Linked DNA regions of Homo sapiens. The protein of the gene in region 1 purifies or fractionates together with the protein of each later gene. This does not show direct contact. Each region holds a gene or a part of one and is shown in the gene's direction. Other genes may lie near its edges. The genes, in order: RGS13 and GNA11.

The links.
Region 2: the proteins of RGS13 (region 1) and GNA11 purify together in Homo sapiens (affinity purification with western blotting, with the first as the bait; one study listed by BioGRID). This does not show direct contact.

Annotation. Positions count from the first base shown.
Region 1 is NC_000001.11:192,642,482-192,646,298, forward strand, and holds part of RGS13 (regulator of G-protein signaling 13), read left to right. Parts: intron 1-1,849; 5' UTR 1,850-1,853; coding exon 1,854-1,918; intron 1,919-3,817. UniProt on the Homo sapiens protein: Inhibits signal transduction by increasing the GTPase activity of G protein alpha subunits thereby driving them into their inactive GDP-bound form. Binds to both G(i)-alpha and G(q)-alpha.
Region 2 is NC_000019.10:3,118,045-3,121,430, forward strand, and holds part of GNA11 (guanine nucleotide-binding protein subunit alpha-11), read left to right. Parts: intron 1-879; coding exon 880-1,009; intron 1,010-1,161; coding exon 1,162-1,315; intron 1,316-2,944; coding exon 2,945-3,135; 3' UTR 3,136-3,386. UniProt on the Homo sapiens protein: Guanine nucleotide-binding proteins (G proteins) function as transducers downstream of G protein-coupled receptors (GPCRs) in numerous signaling cascades.

The DNA of each region.
Region 1 (3,817 bases):
CAGCTAATTTTTTTTTTCTTTTTGTTGGAGAGACAGGGTCTCTCTATGCTGCCCAGGTTGGTCTCAAACTCCTGGGCTCAAGAGAGCCTCCTGCCTCAGTCTTGCAAAGTGTTGGGATTATAGGCCTGAGCCACAGTGCTGAGCCTAAATTCCTTTTATTTCCTCAATGGGACATAACTCATTGCCTCTTAATCTTTGCTCAAGTTGCCCCTCCTTCACTCAGCACACTCGTGGATATCCTGCTGGTTCCAGCTCAGATGTTACTTAACTGGGCTGCCTTCACTAACCCCTCAAGTCTAGTTAGGTTCTCCTCCTAGGTGTATTCACAACCCCTGTACTTCCTGTATCCAAGTCCCCATCACATTTCGGGATTTTTTGTTTTTGTTTTTTGTTTTTGAGATAGGGTCTCACTCTGTTGCCCCAGCTACAGCACAGTGGTGCAATTACAGCTTGCTACAGCCTCCATCTCCTGGGCTCAAGTGATTGTCCCACTACAGCATCCCAAGTAGTTGGGACTACAGGCATGAGTCAACATGACCAGCTAATTTTTTTTATTTTTTGTAGAGACAGAATCTTACCGTGTTGCCCAGGCTAGTCTAGAACTCCTGGGCTCAAGCAATCCTCCCCGCTTCAGCCTCCCAAATTGCTGAGATTACAGGTATCAGCCACTGTGCCCAGCCCATCACATGTATTTTAATTGCTTGTCAGTGAGGACAGAAGAGGACAGACAAGATGTATATTGATCACAGGCAGCCAGAACTTGGCACATAACAAGTATTCAAAAGACTTTTGAATGAATCGTAAAGACTGATATAAAAATTCACTGTTTATCCTTAATAATTCATTATATATGTATGTATATATGTTTAACAAACCATTTCCAGCTTTAAAATGTGGATTTAATGACTCTTAACAAATTTGTTAGTTGTTTTTTTAAAGTCCTGAGTTAAAAACCTTCTATGATATGTATTGTTATGTAAAGGTGCCTGAGATGAATAAACTCTAACTGAATTTTAAAGTCAAAGTTACTGTGCCCAGAGTAGATAAAACCAGATAAGCAGCACCCTTAAAATTCACTCAGAAGGTGCTTTATTTTTTATTTGGCTATTTACACTATTTTACTTGTCCAGTTAAAATAAGGCTCTTTTTTAATACATTGAGAGAGCTTTCTAAACACAAGAATTGTGGCTGGGCACAGTGGCTCATGCCTACAGTCCCAGCAGTTCGGAAAGCTGAGGTTGGCAGGTTGTTTGGGCCCAGGAGTTTGAGACCAACCTGGGCAATGTGGTGAAACCCCTTCTCTACCAAAAATACACAAAAATTAGCCAGTCATGGTGGCGCATGCCTGTAGTCCCAGCTACTCCAGAGGTTGAGGTGGGAGGGTCACCTAAGACTGGGGATGTCAAGGCTGCAGTGAGCCATGATCATGCCACTGCACTCCAGGCTGGGTGACAGGGTGAGACCCTGTCTCAAAAAAATAAAAATAAAAATAAGAATTGTCCCAAAAGGGAAGCCTTGGGAGTTGGTAAATTCGTTATCGGTAAGTTCTAAATGAAAAGATCTTTTTCAGAGATTTGGTATTTTTTGAACCTCATTGTTTAATAAATAGGCCAGTTGAGTAAAGTCATTTACAAATCTAAGCACGTATATTTTTATAAAATATTTATGAGAGATGAGTCATTTTATTCTCCTCTCTCCTCCCAACTCCCCCAGTGACTGTATTCCATTAACTTCAAGAGCCCATCTTTTTTTTTATGATTTATAATATTGTATGTTCCTTAGAAACTGACTGTAACATACAATTATTTTAAATGATTAAATTATACAAATATATACTGTATTTCCTTAGAAAAATGAGCAGGCGGAATTGTTGGATTTGTAAGATGTGCAGAGATGAATCTAAGAGGCCCCCTTCAAAGTAAGTAGCATTTAAGTTTCTATGGTAATTGTAAAGCATATTTATCAGATGATAAATAGGTACATATTTATTAAACTGCTATTGTAACATATTTTGTTCAGAAAGTAAAATTTGCATTTACACGTGAGTCATTTCATCAGAAGAGCAGTCATATGTTACTAAGATTCTTGTTTTCATTATTCATGGTTTACACTTGAGAATTCAGCAAGTTAAATGCTTTAGAATCTATTATGAATAGTCTCTGTTCTTTTTAAAAAACAAAGAATATTGTTTGTGTTAAAATGAGATTCTTCAATCCAAAATATTTTCTTGGTTCCAACCCTCCACATACGAAGTGCCAGAAAGCTTCATCCCTAGATAAAGAAGGTGAGACTGGAGGAGGAATCAAATGTTAACCAAGCTCCCAAGTCTCTTCCTCCACACTTTTCTATAACTCAAAATGTTGCCATTTGGATGAGAACAGTGAAAAGAATAATGCCTGAGAAAAGTAACAGACCATTGCATTGGATTTCCTCACCTGAAAGAATTCCCAAAAGTTGAGAACCCCTGTTAGATTAACCATGAGTGCCTAACATAGTCCATGTCCAGCCCTCAGTTCTGGCCACACCTTTTTGTATGGTCAGAGCCCCTGGCATGAATGCTCTTTCACTAAAATACCAAAATGTCCAAAAAGGCTTACAAGCTACTGTGTGGCAAGGAGAAGGATGCTGCAATGGTGGTCAGAGGAGATAGTAAGACCCAAAGCTCAGCATTTTAAATGACAGTGAATGCTACTGCACTGCACAGGTGCATCCAAGGACAAAGGTATAATCTGCTAATTAAGGGACAGCTCTCCTTTCTTCGAATGATTCCCATAGAGGATCACTGTCAGAGCTCGCCTTTCTTCTATCTGCCTTATAGACTCACCATGAGAAAAGGGGAAGACCAGAAAAATTAAAAATCACATTCATGGAAAGCTGCCAGATAACAGTTATTTAATAGGTACTTGGCATTCATGACCTAATTTAATTTTCATTATAACATTGTGCGATAGACGTTATTATCCCTATTATATAGACAATAAAATTGGGGTTTGAAGATTTTAAGTAAGACCAAGGACAATTAAGTACAGCACTGGGATTAGAACCTAGGACTGTCAGAGACTCCAAACATTCTTCATTCTTTTGTCTGCAACATCATGGTATCTTAAAATGCTTTCATATCCGTTTGGTATCCACTGCCCATCCGCCCAGAAGAATGGAGGGGACACAAGGGAGAACTTGTATCAGGAAAAAAGGTATTTCAAATAATCCTAATAAAGGCACCTGGATAGCCATGGGCCAGCATTAAACTTGTGAGAACCTCCAAAAAAAATTATAAGCAAAAATGGGGTTCAATTAAAAACAAATTGTATTTCCCATTTTTACCCCCAACCGTAATTACTCCAATCATCTCTCCCCATAAATCTCATGAGTCTTAGAGACAAAAGAACTCTCTTACCAACAATCATCGACACTTAATTTTAAGCTAACCCAACACATTGATGACTCTTCACTCGTGTTGTAGATTTTATTCTTCCCTATATAATGGGAATGATTAGAACGGACAGGCATTCAATAAACCTTGCCTAGCTCTTTCCATTTCACCAGATTGAAAAGGTTATTTTAGGTTACTTTTTCTAAAGTTTTAACAAGAGAAAAGAACAATGACTCAGATACTATTTCATGGAAATGTTTTTTGAAAGCAATCTTAACACAGTACACTGTTAAGCCTCAGTACTGATGCAAGCAGTCCATCCAAAACTGGCAGGATCCGTCTGAATTTTTAGAAAACAAAAGATATCTGACCTTTTAAGGACTCCCAATATTTTTCCATGTTCTCGGATATTTTTTAATCTCTTTAACTAATCCTCCTTCATTG
Region 2 (3,386 bases), on another chromosome or scaffold:
ACATCTGTCATCCACCGGTGCCTGCTGGACTCCCCCGCAGACCAGACCAGGTGGATTTCACCACTCACATGCCCAAAGCAGCCCCGCTCTCCTCGGCAGAGTTGCAGGGACCCCGGCCTTCCCTGGGGCCTGGGGCCAGGGCCTGAGGGGCACTCTCCGCTTCTGCCTTTGTATTCTTTCAAGGAGACCAAAGTGCCTTTTCTCGTTATAGAAAACTTAGAAAAGTCACAAGTAGAAAGAGGCAAACGTCCCGTAAGGAACGCACGCCCGCAGACATCGTCTGAGCTGATTTTCTTTCTCCCGCCTGTGCGTGGCCTGAGAGTGTGAGGTTGAGCTGCTCACCACGCGGGGCAGGGCGCTGCGCCTGCTCTTCTGCCCCAGGAGGATACCGGCAACTCTGCCCTCTGCAGCCGTCACTGGAGGGTCCCTGCAGGGAGCAACTGTGGCATCAGTGTTTACTCCTGCGAGTGACGCTTGGTGAACATCTGTGTCCCTGGCCCAGTGAGGGGAAAGGCTTCTGTGCTCAGGGTGACATCCAGATGCCAGATGTAGGGTCCCTGGGCACCCATCGCAGGTTCCCGCAGCAGCTGGCGCCCAGAATCCTCTGGGTTCTCACACCCCCACACTAGCGCCCGCTTCCCTGGGCCCAGTGGTCTCAGGCCCCTTTGCCAGTGAGGGAAGGGTCTGCGGTGGTCACCCCTGGAGGCGGTGCGGCCGCTCTCTGAGAGCGTCCTTGCCCGTTCTAAGAGTGGGGGCTCTTCCTGCTCCAGCCGATGTCAGTCTGGTGTGGCAGGAGGGGCTTGGGTGGGAGCCGTCCTGGGATTGCAGATTGGGCCTTGGGGCGCCAGGTGGCTGAGTCCTGGCGCTGTGTCCTTTCAGGATGGTGGATGTGGGGGGCCAGCGGTCGGAGCGGAGGAAGTGGATCCACTGCTTTGAGAACGTGACATCCATCATGTTTCTCGTCGCCCTCAGCGAATACGACCAAGTCCTGGTGGAGTCGGACAACGAGGTGGGCCCTGCCCTGAGCAGGGGCAGCGTTGGGGGCCGGGCCTTCCCCACCTGCCAAGCCTGGGTCCCCTCACCTGGGTCCCCCCAGCTGCCCCTTGGGCTGTGTGCAGTGGGGAGGGCCCCTCTGATTCCCTCTGCCTTCGCTCCCGCCAGAACCGGATGGAGGAGAGCAAAGCCCTGTTCCGGACCATCATCACCTACCCCTGGTTCCAGAACTCCTCCGTCATCCTCTTCCTCAACAAGAAGGACCTGCTGGAGGACAAGATCCTGTACTCGCACCTGGTGGACTACTTCCCCGAGTTCGATGGTGCGCCGGGCTGCGGCATGGGGAGGGGCTCGCGGGCAGGGCCTTACTGGGGGGAGGGGGCTGATATGGGAGAGGGGCTCATACAGGCCGGGAGCTCTAAGGGAGGGCGTCTGATGGGAGGTGTCATGTATGGGAGTGGAGTCTCAGGGAAGGGAGATCTCGTATGAGGGGGGCCTGTACGGGAATGAGTTCTCCGACGCGGGTGTCTCATACCCGTGGGAGATCTGTTAATGCAGGGACTCCTTATACAGGAGGGGTCTCGGGTGGGAGGGGTCTCGGGCAGGGGGATCTCGGGTGGGAGGAGTCTTGTACAAGGAGGGCACCATGGGAGGGGGAGTCTTGTATTGGTGGGTCTTGTACGGGAGGGAGTTGTCGTATGGGGGTGTCCTGTATAGGTGATCCCATATGGGAGGGGTCTCACAGGAAGGGTTCACGCACACTGCCAGCGCAGCCCCGTGGGGACCTTGGTGGTAGTCCCTGCATCCTCCTCTGTGCCCTACTGCCCCCACCCTCGGACCCGTCCCTCCCTACGTGGCCCCTGCCCCACGGGGTGTGTCAGGGCAGCTGAGCACTGAGGGTCTTCACATGCCCAGCCCTCTCTGGGCCTGGGGATGGCGGCCAGGGGAGGGTGTTGTGTGCCCTCGTCTGTGTGGTCAGTGGCTGCCGTTAGTGCTGTCACCACTCAGAGCTGTCCCTGCCAGGCACAGTGAGGCCCTGGGCAGCTCTGGCGCCCTCATTTCCACCCCGGATCTGTGCTCCTCCCGTGAGTCTCGGGTGTCATCTTCGGGAGGGCCCCTCAGGGTGCCCTGCCTCTGGATGTGCAGCGAGAGGGAGGGGTCTGGCACACGGTATAGCCTCGGCCGCTGGCTGCAGGCGCAGGGCCCTGCTGTCCCTGGGCAGGGGAGTGGCGGGGGGCGCTGCACCTGCTCCAGCCGCACGTGGCCCCTGCCCAGCAGCCTGTCCTGTGGGCTCAGAGAGCCCTGGTGGGGGGAGGCCAAGGGACTGGGGCATAGACCCCTGTCCCACCAGTCCCCAGAGCAGCCCCTTGAACACCCCCAGGGGCCTTTCCACCGGGGCAGGCAGGAGTTACTGGGCGGGTCGCCTGCATTGTCCAGGGTGGTGGAGGGGCAGGGGTGGCCGGTGGGAAGCAGCGCCCCTGCTGGAGCCCCTGGATGTCTCTGAGGCCTGGCTGCAGCAGGGGCACCGTGGGTGGGTGGGGGCCACTGTTCCTGCTCTGTAGGCTCTGTGCCCAGCCCTGGGGGCCTCTCCTCTCACCCTGGGCCTTCGCAGGGCAGCCATGCCAGAGGCCTGCCCTGGAAGGCTGTGGCTGTGGAGCTGAGTGGATAGAGGCCGGCAGAGGGCTGAGCAGAGGGAGCAGCGGTGGGTGCAGAGCCCCAGGTTGGAGGCCTGGGCCGTGACAGTAGTGCCCTGGGGCTACAGTGGGATTGGCACCGCAGCTCACCTGGGGAGGGAGGGGAGCTGCGGCCCGTCAGGCATGCAGTGGGCTGGGGGTCGAGCTGGGTGGGCCGTGGGCCTTACTCGCTCATCCCCTGGGAGTGACAAAGGGGCCCACGAGTCCCTTGCCCTGGGCCGGGCTGGGGCACAGCCTCACCCTCTGCCCTCCCCCAGGTCCCCAGCGGGACGCCCAGGCGGCGCGGGAGTTCATCCTGAAGATGTTCGTGGACCTGAACCCCGACAGCGACAAGATCATCTACTCACACTTCACGTGTGCCACCGACACGGAGAACATCCGCTTCGTGTTCGCGGCCGTGAAGGACACCATCCTGCAGCTCAACCTCAAGGAGTACAACCTGGTCTGAGCGCCCAGGCCCAGGGAGACGGGATGGAGACACGGGGCAGGACCTTCCTTCCACGGAGCCTGCGGCTGCCGGGCGGGTGGCGCTGCCGAGTCCGGGCCGGGGCCTCTGCCCGCGGGAGGAGATTTTTTTTTTTCATATTTTTAACAAATGGTTTTTATTTCACAGTTATCAGGGGATGTACATCTCTCCCTCCGTACACTTCGCGCACCTTCTCACCTTTTGTCAACGGCAAAGGCAGCCTTTTTCTGGCC